Regions from separate parts of the Homo sapiens genome. Here region 2 is linked to region 1. A link means that fine-mapping ties the variant in region 1 to the expression of a gene that starts in the linked region. Tissue or cell type: whole blood. Region 1 holds a variant in brackets; the other region holds the start of a gene. All regions are shown on one strand. Distances are between the middles of the regions.

Region 1 (8,099 bases):
AAGGGTGGGGTGTACTTGAAGGACTGTCGTCCTGGCAGAGGCACGCTGTCTCACCAGAGCCATGGTGTCGGCGGTGCCCCCGTCCCCACTGGAGGGGGCGTCTCAGGACGAGTGGGTGGGTCCACCCACCCTTTTTCATTTCTTCCCCCACTTCTCTTGCGTAGCTTCCAGCTCACTGTGGAGATGTTTGATTACATGGATTGTGAGCTGAAGCTTTCTGAATCAGGTGAGCCGTAAAGAGGGGATGCGGGGGTCTGAGTGTATTGCTAAGTCCCCAGAGATGGGACGAGAAGAAAAAAGAAGACATGAGTGATCAGACCAACTGATCACTATGAAATGACCCTGGCCAGCCGCAGTGGCTCACATCTGTAATCCCAGCATTTTGGGAGGCCGAGGCAGGCAGATTGCTTGAGGTCAGGGGTTCAAGACCAGCCTGGCCAACATGGTGAAACCCTGTCTCTACTAAAAAAATATAAAAATTAGCCAGGCGTGGTGGCGCACGCCTGTATTCCCAGCTACTTGGGAGGCTGAGGCAGGAGAATCACTTGAACCTGGGCGGCGGAGATCATGCCGCTACACTCCAGCCTGGGCAACAGAGTGAGTCTCCGTCTTAAAAAAAAAAAAAAGAAAAAGAAATGCCCCTGCCCCTCCTGGGGTCCCTGCACCTCCAGGGATAGGTAATGGGGCCTCCTGGCCCCTCCAAAGCATGGCAGGCCCCAGCGGGTACATCCAGGATACAGGTTCAGCCATCTCTTCCATCCAGTGAGTGTCACTCCATCAGCCCCAAGACAGGGAGGGTGAGGAGGTGTGCACAGGAGCCACCTTGCCAGGTTCCTGCCCCAGCCTTGGGCCATCTGCAGAGCCCAGCTGGAAGAAAGGTTTGGGTCGTCCTGCCATTTTCTGCTCTAGAAAGCCTCTGAGTCACGTCAGACTTCCTAGCGAGGGAACCCGGCCGCTGTTGGACAGGAAATCTCAGAGGGCTCAGCTTCCAGGCTGGAGAACTGATTGTTCTGGGTGGCAGCTTCAAAACAACTCATGGGTGACTCAGTGCTCTCCATAAGAGGGCAAGAAGCAAATGCCTCCTTAAGGGAAAATTGGGAGTTAGAGGCAGTTTGGGCAGCCTCCCTGAGTCCCCAGGTCTGGCCAGTGCAGCTGGGCGAGCCTGATGGGTATTCAGTTCCAGTGGGTGGGAGGTGGGCTCAGAGTTGGACCCTTGTGCCTGGGAAGAGCCTGCTCAGGATCTGACATGGAGAGCAGAGGGCAGGTGTCCAAAGGTGTGGCCCCAACTGTGCAGCAGGACAGGGCTACCAGGCTCTGTGTCCTGGCAGAGATGTGCTGAGCCTGAGCCTCTCAGCACAGAGCCCACCAGGTAGGAGCCAGTTACCCCTGGCATGGGAGAAGGCCAGTGTGGGCAGGCAGTGGCCCCACGAGGGAAGTGGAGAACACTCACAGGCACGCTTCCCACCTGGTGACGCTGGTGTGTTGATGAAGCACAAATGGGGTGTACCAGCATCTGCTGGAGAAATTCCCAGATCTGCAGAGGTGACAGGTACAGGGGCTTCCCTGCCTCAGGACCTGTAACAGCAAAGAAACACAAACGTCCTAAACATGCCTCAGCAGAGGCTGCGTCTCGCTGTCTGTGCAGAGCAGAGAACGGAGGGTGGTGGGAAGAGAGATGTGTCGAATCTGGGATGGCCGGGAAGATCTAGAAAACATTCTACTGTGTGAAATCAAGCAGATTGCCGAACAGCATGGACATACGTGTTGAAGATCCAAGCAGTACTTTATGTGTGCTGTAATTTTTTGCAAGGAAAACATACTTAGCATGACATGTAATTAGAGATTACTTTTTTAAAAAGGCAAGGGGCGGCACTTTGTGTCTTCCTTCTTGCCCCTCCCCCCCAGGCTCTCTCCTGTCACTGCAGAGATTTGCAAGTGGTCCCATCACAGGCAAGGCAGGAGCAGGACCTGAGGGGCCAGGGCACAGGTCTGTGCAGCGGGGGCTGTCTGGCCGCTCTCCCGTGCTGGCCAGCTGCCTGCTCTTTGTCATTCTCTCTGCCCCAGAGAAGCTGCCAGCCAAGGAGGAGGCAGCCTCATGTTTGTCCTTTGTCCCTCCCACTTGGTAGTTCTGATACAAGGCCCGATTGTCAGGGGCAGGGGAGACGGGCCCTGGGGGTGTCAGGGGCAGGGGAGACGGGCCCTGGGGGTGTCAGGGGCAGGGGAGACGGGCCCTGGGGGTGTCAGGGGCAGGGGAGACGGGCCCTGGGGGTGTCAGGGGCAGGGGAGACGGGCCCTGGGGGTGTCAGGGGCAGGGGAGACGGGCCCTGGGGGTGTCAGGGGCAGGGGAGACGGGCCCTGGGGGTGTCAGGGGCAGGGGAGACGGGCCCTGGGGGTGTCAGGGGCAGGGGAGACGGGCCCTGGGGGTGTCAGGGGCAGGGGAGACGGGCCCTGGGGGTGTCAGGGGCAGGGGAGATGGGCCCTGGGGGCAAGCGAGGTTTCAGGGTCACTTGGGGTGTGCAGAGCCAAGCTGTGACCCTAGTGCCGTGTTACTTGGCAGAAGCCCTGCCTGTTCCCACATCTGTAAAGTTAGGCATTTGGGGTGCTCCATCGTGAGCCTCCTTCCTGCTCTAACATTCAGCGTGGGTTTGAGGCCCGTGGGCATGGAGCTATCCGTCACCCTTGTCAGTCGGGCACCTCGTCCTGGGCTCCCAGGTGGAGGTCTCTGGAAGCCCTTGCTGAGCTGGGCTGGGAGCTCCTTTGCCCTGACCTTGTTGTTGCCGTTGACCTCCTTCATGGGAGCATCTGGTCTTGACCTGGGGCAGCCACCAGCACATGAGGCTCCCGTCTTGGAGGCAGGGGGCACACTGGTGTGTGGGAGCTGGCTTAGGGCCCTGCTTCACAGTTGGACCACCTTGGACAGGTTGCCCAGCTCCCAAGGGCTCACGTTCTTCCTCCTGCCCCTTTTGCACAGTTTTCCGACAGCTCAACACGGCCATCGCCGTATCCCAGATGTCCTCAGGCCAGTGCCGCCTGGCCCCCCTCATCCAGGTCATCCAGGACTGCAGCCACCTCTACCACTACACGGTCAAGCTCCTGTTCAAGCTACACTCTTGTGAGTGGCCCAGGGCAACCCCTGGCCCGGAAGGCTGTGTTTATATGGCTTAGACATTCACTGTCAAAAAGGAAAATCGAAAAATTAGAGGTTTATTCATTTAAAAATGGCAGTAATAAACCCACTGCCCATTAATAGAAATAACATATATTTTATGAAAAAAAAAAAAAAAAAACCCACTACTTTACCAAGCAAAAAACTTAGTGAGTGGCTTGGTTTTCATTTTTACGACTAAATGCCTGGCTCGGCCAAGACGGAGGCCCCAGCTGCTCCCAGGAATCTCCCGCCAGGCACCCTGGGGGTGCAAGCGCAAAAAGGCAAAAGGTGTCTGGGGTGTTAGGAGAGTTTTGATCTAACCAACCCCTTGAAAGGGTCTCGTCCCTCGACCGCACTTTGAGAACCACTGTGTTAGTGTCAGCCTGGGACCAACGTGTTTGGTGAAAGCGGCTTGCTAGTGCCTCCCGAAGCCAGGTGTGGGTTAGGTGAGATGTGGCCGCAGCGCCTTCCTTTCCATTCGCTGTTTCCTTCTCTAGCTCAGTCTGAACTGAGCCCTCCCACAGCGTCTCCCACAGGTCTCCCCATCCCGATGGGAGAGCGGGCCTGGCCCGGTCTCAGGTGATCTCTGAT[C/G]TGTGAGTTTGTAGCATACGGAGGAACAAGGCAGGGCAGGTGAGCCCCTGAGCAGTGTGCAGAGAAGTCCTGTTACACTTGTGCCACCCTCCAGGTCTCCCTGCGGACACCCTGCAAGGCCACAGGGACCGGTTCCACGAGCAGTTTCACAGGTACTGCCTGGGACAGGGACAGGATTGAGGCCGGTGGGGGAGAGGCTCCGTGGCCCCTTCCTGAACCCGAACTTCCCACCATCTCTGCAGCCTCAGGAACTTCTTCCGCAGAGCCTCCGACATGCTGTACTTCAAGCGGCTCATCCAGATCCCCCGGCTGCCCGAGGTACCACCCCCAAGAGGGCCCCGAGGCCCTTTGAGGACCCCAGGCACCTGGCTGGGCCCCACACAGGCTATGGAGATGGCGGAAGGAGGGCTTGCTTAGGGGACAGCTGAGCAGGTCCCACCTGCCGCCCCTGCAGGGACCCCCTAACTTCCTGCGGGCCTCAGCCCTGGCTGAGCACATCAAGCCGGTGGTGGTGATCCCCGAGGAGGCCCCGGAAGATGAGGAGCCGGAGAATCTCATTGAGATCAGCACAGGGCCCCCCGCGGGGGAGCCAGTGGTGAGCCCCCTGCCCAGCCCGTGTCCCCCAGTCCTCCAGCTGCAGCATGAGGCCAACGGGAGTGTCGGGTGGCCAGCCCTCCCTTTGCCCACTGCCCGGCCTGGAGGGCACAGGTGAGTGGGGTCACCATGCTTTGCTGTGGCAGGTGGTGGCTGACCTCTTCGATCAGACGTTTGGACCCCCCAATGGGTCTGTGAAGGACGACAGGTGAGGGCTGGAGGAGCCGACTGGGCTGGGGGTGGTTGGAAACGGGCTCAGCTGAGCTGTGCTCTGGACAGTTCTGTCTGGAAAGGCCATAGGTGGGGAACATGAACCCGTGAGGTGCCCAAATCCTGAGTGGCCACTGAGGAGGAGACAGGTTCCTGTGCTGGGTCTGTTGACTGTTCTGGTTGACTTAACTTGAACCCCAGGACCTCTGTCCCCAGGGACCTCCAGATTGAGAGCTTGAAGAGAGAGGTGGAAATGCTCCGCTCTGAACTGGAGAAGATCAAGCTGGAGGTGCGGGGTGGGGATGGGTGGGGGCCAGGGCCCCTCACGGCCCAGGCAGGGCCCCACGTCACACCTCCTCCCGCAGGCCCAGCGGTACATCGCGCAGCTGAAGAGCCAGGTGAATGCACTGGAGGGTGAGCTGGAGGAGCAGCGGAAGCAGAAGCAGAAGGCCCTGGTGGATAATGAGCAGCTCCGCCACGAGCTGGCCCAGCTGAGGGCTGCCCAGCTGGAGGGCGAGCGGAGCCAGGGCCTGCGTGAGGAGGCTGAGAGTACGTGGGGCCTTGGCCACAGGGGTCCAAGGGTGTGTCCCCAGCCCCTGCCACCCCACACGGGGCATCACTGCCCCTCCTCTCGCCCCCAGGGAAGGCCAGTGCCACGGAGGCGCGCTACAACAAGCTGAAGGAAAAGCACAGTGAGCTCGTCCATGTGCACGCGGAGCTGCTCAGAAAGGTAGGTGCAGCCCATCCTCCATCCCAGCCGGTGGCAGGGCCTCTCGGGGATGGCAGCAGAGCATGAGCCCTTCCCCTGCCCATGCAGAACGCGGACACAGCCAAGCAGCTGACGGTGACGCAGCAAAGCCAGGAGGAGGTGGCGCGGGTGAAGGAGCAGCTGGCCTTCCAGGTGGAGCAGGTGAAGCGGGAGTCGGAGTTGAAGGTATGTCCCTTGTGGCACAGGGCCCTGCCCCGGCATCCCCAGCCCACTGCCCCAGTGACACGCTGTCCTGTCCCAGCTAGAGGAGAAGAGCGACCAGCTGGAGAAGCTCAAGAGGGAGCTGGAGGCCAAGGCCGGAGAGCTGGCCCGCGCGCAGGAGGCCCTGAGCCACACAGAGCAGGTGCATCTGGCTTTGATGACTGGAGGTGGGGTTCTGGGGCCAGTCCTGGGTGGAAGTCAGGTCCTCTTTCCCGTGAACAGGCCCCACCTGGGTGCCACTCGGTGATCCTGGGATGCAGCCCTGACCCAGACCCAGGGGCTACATGGGAGACAGGACCTACCGCTGGTCCTCAGGGAGCCCTGAGTCTAATGGAAGTGATCACTAACCCCCAGGGCCCAGTTTATAAGCGTGGGGGCAGGGTGGGTGGGGCCTGGGAGCTCTGTTCACATGCCTGGTGTCCATGTCTGTCCACAGAGCAAGTCGGAGCTGAGCTCACGGCTGGACACGCTGAGTGCGGAGAAGGATGCTCTGAGTGGAGCTGTGCGGCAGCGGGAGGCAGACCTGCTGGCGGCGCAGAGCCTGGTGCGCGAGACAGAGGCGGCGCTGAGCCGGGAGCAGCAGCGCAGCTCCCAGGAGCAGGGCGAGTTGCAGGGCCGGCTGGCAGAGAGGGTATGGCCTCCCCAGATGCAGCAGCACCACTGAGTTCACTGCCGTCTGGCAACCATCGATCTGTCTCCGTGATCTGCCTGTTCTAGAGATTTCATGTAAAGGGGATCATACACGATGCATCCTTTTGTGTCCGGCTTCTTCACTCAGCATCACGTTGTCAAGGGTCACCACATCATAGCCTGTGTCATTACCTCATTCCTTTTATGGCTGAGTCGTACTCTGCCGTGTGGACAGACCACATTGTGTTTATCTGTTCATCACTTGGTGGACATTGGGTTTGTTGCAACTTTCTGGCTGTTGTAAATAGTGCTGCTGTGGGCCTTTGAGCACAAGTTTCTGTGTAAACATCTGCCATCACTTATCTTGGATAGATAGCTGATGTGTGTGGAACACAGTAGAACTGCTGGGTCTCACCTCTGTTACCCTGTTGAGAAACTACCAGACTGTTTTCCAAAGTGGCTGCACCATTTTACACTCCCACCAGCAACGCATGAATGTTCCAGTTTCTCCACATCCTTGCCAATGCTTATTATTGTCTTCTTTTTATTTTAGCCATCCTAGTGGGTGTGGAGTGGTTTCTCACGGTCTTGATTTGTGTTTCCCTGATAGCAAAGGGTGCTACATATCTTTTCATGAGCTACCTGGCCATTTGTGTATCTTTGGAGAAATGTCTTTTAGGACCTTGAGCTCACGTTTTAATTGGGTTATCTTTTTATTCTTGAGCTGTGCACTGTGTGGGAAGCCTCTTTCTAGAAATCTCCACCCCCCTGACCAGTGAGGGTCTCAGCTGGGCTCCAACTGGTGGCCCATGGGTCATTCCAGGGCTGGGGCACATCCTTGGCCTTGGGGAGGATCTCTAACCTGTCCTCTTCACCCCCATTGCCAGGAGTCTCAGGAGCAGGGGCTGCGGCAGAGGCTGCTGGACGAGCAGTTCGCAGTGTTGCGGGGCGCTGCTGCCGAGGCCGCGGGCATCCTGCAGGATGCCGTGAGCAAGCTGGACGACCCCCTGCACCTGCGCTGTACCAGCTCCCCAGGTAGACAGTGGGGCCACACTCAGCCGCTCCCCTGCCTCCTTCCCATCCCCAGCCCTGAGCAGCGGGTGGCAGGGGCCTCAGTTCTCCTCGTGCTTGCAGACTACCTGGTGAGCAGGGCCCAGGAGGCCTTGGATGCCGTGAGCACCCTGGAGGAGGGCCACGCCCAGTACCTGACCTCCTTGGCAGGTGAGTGTAGCCAGGGCAGGGCGGAGGCGGGGGCTGTGTCCCAGTTCCAGCGCCCATGGCCACCTCTTGCCTTTTGGGAGGTTTACAGACAGCAGGGACCTCTCTGGGAAGCCAAGCAGATGCCCCCTGCCTGCTCCTTCCCAGGAACCCACCCCTGCCCTGTGGACAAATAGGCTTTTGCCTCTGGGGCCTGGGCCACCATATGTCTGCAGGTGGCAGAGCACTGAAGGGCCCGGGGCCACACACACTGTGGTGTGGTTCCCACTGCCTCCTGGACGTTGTCTTGCCGAGCCCTCCTTTCCTCTTCCTCCTCCTCCTGGGATAGCTGGCCACCGACGGTGGTCCCAGTGCTAGTGTCTCAGTGTCATCCTCCCCCAACCTTGGCCCCACCCACCCGCACAGACGCCTCCGCCCTGGTGGCAGCTCTGACCCGCTTCTCCCACCTGGCTGCGGATACCATCATCAATGGCGGTGCCACCTCGCACCTGGCTCCCACCGACCCTGCCGACCGTAAGTGGGTCCTGGGATGGCAGGTTCTGTCCACCTCACTGGCTTGTCTCCCCTGGGGGTCCTTATGGAGCCTGTCGGTGGGGGGGGCTCCACTCACGGTCCTTTCTCACCCCAGGCCTCATAGACACCTGCAGGGAGTGCGGGGCCCGGGCTCTGGAGCTCATGGGGCAGCTGCAGGACCAGCAGGCTCTGCGGCACATGCAGGCCAGCCTGGTGCGGACACCC
Region 2 (8,099 bases), 120 kb after region 1:
AAGTGGTTAAAATGGTAAATTTCGTTATGTAGATGTTATCATAATAAAAAGAATGTTCATAGCAGCTTCATTCATAATGTCTTTTTTTTTTTTTTTTTTTTTTGTTGAGACAGAGTCTCACTCTGTCACGCAGGCTGGAGTGCAGTGGTGCAATCTTGGCTCACTGCAAGCTCCGCTTCCCAGGTTTACGCCATTCTCCTGCCTCAGCCTCCCGAGCAGCTGGGACTACAGACGCCAGCCACCGCGCCCGGCTAATTTTTTGTAGCCAGGATGGTCTGGATCTCTTGACCTCGTGATCCACCCGCCTTGGCCTCCCAAAGTGCTAGGATTACAGGCGTAAGCCATGGCGCCTGGCCTCATTCGTAATGTCTTTAAACTGGAAACAGCGTAAATGTCTGTCAGCTGTAGAATGGGTCAATGACTTGTGGAATGTTCACTCAAGGGAATAGAAAGCAGTCGAGAAAAATAACAGGGGCGCTTCTACGGGGGCTGGAATGTTCTGATTGGGATCTGGGTGCTGGTTACATGGGTTTGTCCAGTGCTCTATGTTGACTTTTTTGTTTTTGTTTTCTGAGACAGAGTCTCACTCTGTCGCCCAGGCTGGAGTGCAGTGGCGCAATCTCGGCTCACTGCAGCCTCCGCCTCCTGGGTTCAAGTGATTCTCATGCCTCAGCCTCCCGAGTAGCTGGGATTACAGGCGTGTGCTACCACGCCTGGATAATTTTGTTATATTTTTAGTAGAGACGGGGTTTCACCATGTTGCCCAGGCTGGTCTCGAACTCCTGACCTCAGGTAATCCGCTGGCCTCAGCCTCCCAAAGTGCTAGGATTACAGGCGTGAGCCACCACACCTGGCCTCTATGTCAATTTTTAAAGTATGTGTAAATATACACATATACAGACATATACATATGATTGCACATTCATATACATATATTCACATACACATATACATACGACTCTGGAATCAAGATACTCTAATTCTGGAGCGTTCTAATTCTGGTCTGCTACTCACTAGGTTTATGACTCTAGACAGATTCCTGTACCCACCTCACTTTCCTTATCTGTAAAATGGGGGTAATAATACCTTAAGCAGTCAACAAAGATACATGTCAGCGCTGGCTGGCAGCACATGTTGATTCAGTACTTGCTGGTAAATATTCTTCTTGCTGCTGCTCCCTTCGGTGACTGAGCCCAGAGTGTCTGGAAGGAGGAGAGGGTCCATGGAGAGGGCCAATCTAAACTGATAAGCAGGCCAGGCGCAGTGGTCTCAGTTCTAGACCAGCCTGGCCAACATGGCGAAATCCCGTTTCTACTAAAAATACAAGGCCGGGCGCGGTGGCTCACGCCTGTAATCCCAGCACTTTGGGAGGCCGAGGCGGGTGGATCATGAGGTCAGGAGATCGAGACCATCCTGGCTAACAAGGTGAAACCCCGTCTCTACTAAAAATACAAAAAATTAGCCGGGCGCGGTGGCGGGCGCCTGTAGTCCCAGCTACTCGGGAGGCTGAGGCAGGAGAATGGCGTGAACCCGGGAAGCGGAGCTTGCAGTGAGCCGAGATTGCGCCACTGCAGTCCGCAGTCCGGCCTGGGCGACAGAGCGAGACTCCGTCTCAAAAAAAGAAAAAAAAAAAAAAAAAAAAAAAAAAAAAAACAAAAACTTTGGGAGGCCGAGGCAGGGGGACCACGAGGTCAGGAGATCAAGACCATCCTGGCTAACACGGTGAAACCCCGTCTCTACTAAAAACATAAAAAATTAGCCGGGTGTGGTGGCGGGCGCCTGTAGTCCCAGCTACTCGGGAGGCTGAGCCAGGAGAATGGCGTGAACCCGGGAGGCAGAGCTTACAGTGAGCCGAGATCGTGCCACTGCACTCCAGCCTGGGCGACAGAGCAAGACTCCGTCTCAAAACAAACAAACAAACAAACAAAAAACAAAAAAATTAGCTGGGCGTGGTGGCGCCTGCCGATAATCCCAGCTATTCGGGAGGCTGAGGCAGGAAAACTGCTTGAATCCGGGAGGCAGAGGTTGCAGTGAGCGGAGATCGCGCCACTGCACTCCAGCCTGGGTGAAACTCTATCTCAAAAAGTAAATAAACAAATAAATAAACTGATAGGTACAACACACTCATCTTGCAAACTGCTGCAAACGGAGAGGGGGTGAGGGTGGGGTGGGGTGCTGCATGTGCCAGGCCTGCCTGGTGGGTGGCTGGGGAGCCGACCTGCCCTGGGCCTCCTGGGGAAAAAGGGCAGTTAGGCGGGTAATGAACATTGATCTGGGGAAATGGATCCTTTCCTAGATAGCAGGGCCTCTCACTATCACTGGGCAATCAAGACGACTGTAAAACGTTAAACACCTTCTCGGGCCGGGCAGCTCTGCACGAGAAAACCCCAAATCCCACATACTTCCACCACTCCCAGAAGCCCTGTGGTGGTTAACTGGGGAACTCTGTAGGGTTCAAACGCCATATTTGCCCCTTACTGGATGTGTGACCTGCGGCGGGTCCCTGTGCCTCTCTGGGTCTCAGTTTCCTCATCTGTAAGACGGTGATATAATAGTACCTAGCTCAAAGGTTTAATGCTGGTAGATTCCTGAGCAAAGGTCCGGGGAGAGAAGAGGCTCGGTCTGCAAGAGTTGTCATTTGTTGGCTGCGGTGAGACCACGCCCCGTCGCCCTCCCACACCTGACCCCGCCCTCCCGCGTCCATTGGGAACGCCACCGGAAGTAATGCGAGACGGAGCGTTTTGGTGGAGACACTCACTGGGGCAATCTGAGGTAATCCAACAGACTGTGGCGGAGGGACCGGAAGCGCCAGGCAGGGACCCGGGGTAGATGCTAAATCCAAACTGAAACGTACAGGGCTGGATGATTGAAGCACCAGCGGGAACTAGTCGGACCTCCGAGCTCTTTAAACTGTCCTCAGCTCGGCTGGTTCTCCACGAGCTCCGGGCAGACGGCGGGGGGTGGGTCGGCGTTTAAGTCAAAGGCCTTGGGGCTCCGAGTCCCTTCCTCTCCCCGTCCTGTGAAGGCACGACCCAGTTCAGCTGTCTGTAAAGTGGAGCCATTAGTCCCTGCCTCGTAGTGGGAAAACTGGGAGGCGGAACGAGGAGGCCGCCGGTCCCAACCCGGCCCAGGAGCATCTTTCTCCGCAGACCGTTTCCTGGCGAGGTGCGTCTTCGTCCTTTTCCGCCCTTGGGAACTTAGAGCGGCCCCTTGGCCGCTGGTTCCGCGCCTCCCGCGGTTGGGGGCGTGCCCGAAGTCTCTCTACGGAAGCTGGTAGGGCTGTGGGTGCTTCACTATGGCGACGGTGGGGGCTCCGCGGCACTTCTGCCGCTGCGCCTGCTTCTGCACCGATAACTTGTACGTGGCGCGCTATGGGCTGCACGTGCGCTTCCGAGGCGAGCAGCAGCTGCGCCGGGACTACGGCCCGGTGAGTGGCCGCTGTCGTCCCTACGGAGCAGTGGGCAGAGAGGGGTAGTGGAGGAGGGAAGTTCGTCCCCAGGGTCGTTTGCTTTGCGCACGCCGCGCACCGTATCTTCAAATACAAGAATGACGGCCTCTCTCTGCCTCGGTTTTCTCACCGTAAAGGGGTAATAGTATCTCCCTGTGAGATTGTGAGGAAGGAATGAACAAGCATGTAGGGTGCTTAGGACAGGGCCGGGCTCAGCTTGCCGCCTCACAGCAACACCAGCCCGGAGCCCTGTCCTGAGCTTGACAGGGTTCCGCAGTTCATTCTCTCCATGATCCTTTGAGGTCGGGGCTCCTCTCCCCATTTTAAGCAGGGGAAACTGAGGCTTAGAGAGTGAAGGGATTTCCTCAGGTCATACAGTCATGCTCAGTGTTCTTTCTGCTCCCAGATCCTGCGCAGCCGAGGCTGTGTTAGCGCCAAGGACTTCCAGCAGCTGTTAGCAGAGGTACCAGTCCCCTGCCCCTGCACAGCTCCTCCTCGTTAGATTTGTGTCCGCAGCTTGAGGACACAGCTTGAGCCTAGCCTCAGTCCCTGATCCCTGAAGGGTCACTTAGGCCCTCACTTTCCTCCTTCCTGCCCCCCACTCATCCCTCCACACCTGAGTCTTGGCACCAGGAGAGAGAAGGGGAAATGCTAAGTTGCTAAGTTGCCTAGTCATGCCGTTCTTAACAGCTCTGTGAGATAAGCACAAGCACCACTCTCATTTTGGATTGAGAAGCTGAGGCTTAAAGAGGGATCCCTTGCCCAAGCTTTTACAGCAGGAGCAGATGTGATCCCAGCCACAGCTTCCAGGCCCCTGGGCTCCTCACACCTTACCATATACCCCGCAGGCTGCTGCCAGGGCTGCTGCCCCACTCCCTCCTCCTCCTTCCCCTGGAGTCAGTGGTGGGAAGCTTCCCAGGAGAGTCCTCAGCAACCTCTGGAACACAGGACTTGGCCATGACTGTCTCCTGTCCCTGTGTGGGCCCAGATGGTTGAGGTACATCTAGGGGTTCTCATCCCAGCTAGGCTCAGGTTGGGGCAGCCTGAAACAGGATGGGTCCCCTTCTAGAAGTCCCTTTCAGCTAACAGTCTGGAACTTGCAGTTGACCCAGATAGATTCAGGAGTGTAGGCTAGACTTGGCTTCCAGCCTGGGCCCTGTCTGGCGTTCTGGGCTTCAGTTTCTTCATCTGTACAGTGGCCTCAGGAGGATGGGAGGCCCCACCTGGTAACAACCCTGTGCCACCCCAGCTTGAGCAGGAGGTGGAGCGGCGGCAGCGGCTGGGGCAGGAGTCAGCAGCTAGGAAAGCCCTCATCGCGAGTTCCTACCACCCGGCACGGCCTGAGGTCTACGACTCACTGCAGGTACCAGCCAGCCAGAGTGCTTGAAGGCCGGTACTGGAAAGAGGAGGTAGCATCCAGGGCTGGGGGTGCTGCCTGCCCCACAGCTGGTGTGTTTTGCTCCCAGGATGCAGCTCTGGCCCCCGAGTTCCTGGCCGTGACTGAGTACAGCGTGTCCCCAGACGCAGACCTCAAGGGCCTTCTCCAGCGGCTGGAGACAGTATCGGGTGAGGTCCTGGCCCTGAGACCTGGCAGGACCAGGGAATGGCAGCCTGGGAAACCTGGGTGTGGGATGCTGGGGTCCCTCCAGCCACCATCTCTGCCTCCAAAAACCAAACCAGCAGGAGCTGGAAGGGTCAGTGGGACCAACCTGCCAGGAGCAGGACATCCGCATTCATTCATTCAATACCTGCCATGAGCCTGGTATCTTCATTCTTTCCTTCACCCTTCCTTCGTGCCCTCATCCAGCAAATAGTGGATATTTGTGTCATGTGTGGGACAGCTGGCACACTCAAACAGGGCTGATCCAAGATCTTAAAGGGACCATTGAGACAGGTATGGGCAGGATAAAGGGACCAGTAAGGAATGGCAAAGCCCGGCCCCCCAGGGCTGGCAACAGGAGGGAGCAGTTACCACCTGGAGTTGTGGCTCTGGGCGGAGGCCTGCGGCCATGCCAAACTCCAAGTAGGGCAAAAAATGCCCCACTTCTCTTCGGATTTCTTGCTGGGCTCACTTATTGGCTAAACCCAGCAGGAAATGCTGGGCAAGGGAGGTTTGCGTGTTGTTTAACCTCTGATTCAGTTTCCTCATCTGTAAAATGGGAGCAACAGTAACCCCCTCTCTTAAGGCACTGCGACGATCAAGTGAGTTAATCTGCATAGAGTGCCTGTCACAGGGCCCGCACGTAGTGTTTGGAAAGTGTTTCCTATTCTTATTGGCACTGATAGCCTGGGCTAGGGGCTCCTGTGGGAGGCAGATACAAGTTTCCCCTCATGGAGCCTGTGCTTTGTTGGGAGTCATGGGTGGAATGAATCCCCCTCCTCCCAGCCTGGGGGTGCTCTCCTCATTGCCTTCCACTCCCCGGCAGCTGAGATAGTGCTGAGGCTGTTGGCTGGGGCAGGGCCTAGGCTGCGAGGTGGCCCCATCGTGGGCACACTAGCCCTGCACCCCTGGGCATTGGTGCGTCCGCCAAGAAATGTTTAGGTTTCCATTCTCAGCCTGGTTTCTTCCCCCTCAGGGCCCAGCAAGAAAGAACAGCCCCTTCTGGCCTTCCTGCTGGGGGACAGAGGCTCCCAGAGCCACTTCTGAGTTGGGGTACAGACTTCGGTGGCTCATCAGATGAAAGGAGGTGCAGAGAGAGCCTGAAGTTGGCTCTGTGATCCCGACTTGGCTGTCACTGGCCTGCTGGGTGTCCCTGGGCTACTTCCTTCCCCTCTCTGGGCCTCAGGACCCATATGTGAGCTCCCAGGGCCAGCCCTGTGGACACTTGTAGAGTCTGGGGAAAGGTTCCGGGCATAAGTGGGGGGCATGGGAATCGGCCTCCCCTGCTCCTCATGTTACTTCCTTAAGTCATCACAATAGCCCTGAAAAGCAAAGGCCTCATCTCCATGGCACAGGTGATGAAACAGGAAGACTGAAGCCCAGGCCTGGCCGGCCCACGGCCACATTCAGGCCAACAGACCATCCCTCCTTCCACAGAGGAGAAGCGCATCTACCGGGTGCCTGTTTTCACAGCGCCCTTCTGCCAGGCCCTGCTGGAAGAGCTGGAGCACTTCGAGCAATCGGACATGCCTAAGGGGAGGCCCAACACCATGAACAACTACGGGGTGGGTGAGGCCTGGCCGGTGGCAGAGGAGGGGGTGGCTGGGGTCAGGAGGCAGTGTCAGAGGTTCTGCAGATGGGCTGCCTGCCCGGGCTGCGAAAGAAGGTCACAGTGGGATCACCGTGGAGTGGAAGCCCAGGGTTGCAGCCCTCTAGTTTCCTTGCTGACCCCAGGAATCCCCTCCCAGGTGCTGCTGCACGAGCTCGGGCTGGACGAGCCGCTGATGACACCACTGCGGGAGCGCTTCCTGCAGCCGCTGATGGCCCTGCTGTACCCTGACTGTGGCGGGGGCCGGCTCGACAGCCACCGGGCCTTTGTGGTCAAATACGCACCGGGCCAGGACCTGGAGCTGGGCTGCCACTATGATAATGCCGAGCTCACCCTCAATGTGGCCTTGGGCAAGGTCTTCACAGGGGGCGCCCTGTATTTTGGGGGCCTCTTCCAGGTGAGTGTGTGACCCATGCGGCAGGGCCTGGGGCAGCTGTGAGTGCCCAGGCCTGAGTCGTGCCATCTGCAGGCACCCACAGCCCTGACGGAGCCCCTGGAGGTGGAGCACGTGGTGGGCCAGGGTGTCCTCCACCGTGGCGGCCAGCTGCATGGAGCCCGGCCCTTGGGCACTGGTGAGCGTTGGAACCTTGTCGTCTGGCTCCGAGCCTCTGCTGTGCGCAACAGCCTCTGTCCCATGTGCTGCCGTGAGCCCGACCTGGTGGACGATGAGGGCTTCGGTGATGGCTTCACCCGAGAGGAGCCCGCCACGGTGGATGTATGTGCGCTCACCTGAGCTTGCTTGGGCCCAGTGTGGGGGTGGCAGGCAGGTGAGGGCTCCGTTGCCTTGGTCTGGGGGCAGAAATAAAATCCCCGCAGCCTACTGCACTTCTTGGCTCAACGGTGTGCCAGCTTCTGGGTCATTCTATGGGCAAAGATGCTGCCTTAGTTCAGGTTTGTCAGAAGCAGGGTCTGGAATGGGGCTTCAGCGAGGGAGTCAGGGAAGCAGGGGAGGGGAGGGAGCAGCTGGGCAAGGAAGTGGCTTCAGAGGACGTCCAGCCTCAGCTGGCCCCACGGAGAGCTCCAGGCAGAGCCCACAGTACCACAGTGTGCCCACACCACCGGTTACTGGCTCCTGGATGAGGGGGCCAGAGAGGAGTGAATAACTTCCCAGACACTTATCTCCAGGGCAGGGTGCCTTCCAGTAGCCAAGGGAAGCCTCCAGAGAGCACAGATGTGAACCCTCAGCAGCAGGCATCACCCCCCAGTGGACTCGGGTGGGCCACCAGTAGCATCTTCTAGATGGCAGAGGGGTGAATGGCAGGGCCAGGAACCAGGCTGCCCGGGTTCCCATTCTGCTTCTGCCACTTCCAGCTGTGTGGCTTTAGGTGAGCCTTCACCTTTTGGTGCCTTCGTTTCCTCATTTAGCACCTACCTCCTAGAGCTGTTTTGGGAGTCAAATGCGCTGACGTATATAAAGTGCTTTGCAAGATCCCTTTGTGTTT

The links. PIP is the estimated chance that this variant, and not a neighbour inherited with it, causes the effect.
Region 2: OGFOD2 starts here. The variant in region 1 is fine-mapped to the expression of OGFOD2 in whole blood (TOPMed, PIP above 0.99).

What each region holds. Positions count from the first base shown.
Region 1 is chr12:122,851,072-122,859,170 of GRCh38, forward strand. It overlaps HIP1R (huntingtin interacting protein 1 related), which reads left to right. Exons shown (of 32, transcript NM_003959.3): 7 at 165-226; 8 at 2,972-3,112; 9 at 3,834-3,891; 10 at 3,982-4,057; 11 at 4,194-4,334; 12 at 4,480-4,541; 13 at 4,760-4,832; 14 at 4,909-5,092; 15 at 5,185-5,273; 16 at 5,361-5,477; 17 at 5,554-5,655; 18 at 5,950-6,144; 19 at 7,031-7,178; 20 at 7,278-7,364; 2 more. Among named protein-coding and RNA genes, the nearest start is that of HIP1R, 20 kb to the left of the region's middle. RefSeq lists an enhancer at 2,797-3,297. The variant C/G (reference allele first, on the strand shown) is at 3,740.
Region 2 is chr12:122,971,957-122,980,055 of GRCh38, forward strand. OGFOD2 (2-oxoglutarate and iron dependent oxygenase domain containing 2) reads left to right here and starts at 3,288. Exons shown (of 7, transcript NM_001304833.2): 1 at 3,288-3,427; 2 at 3,855-3,911; 3 at 4,698-4,811; 4 at 4,915-5,014; 5 at 6,486-6,613; 6 at 6,797-7,054; 7 at 7,127-8,086. The coding sequence starts at 3,296. The coding sequence ends at 7,390. It also overlaps a transcript of ABCB9 not described here. RefSeq lists enhancers at 2,733-3,192, 7,922-8,099.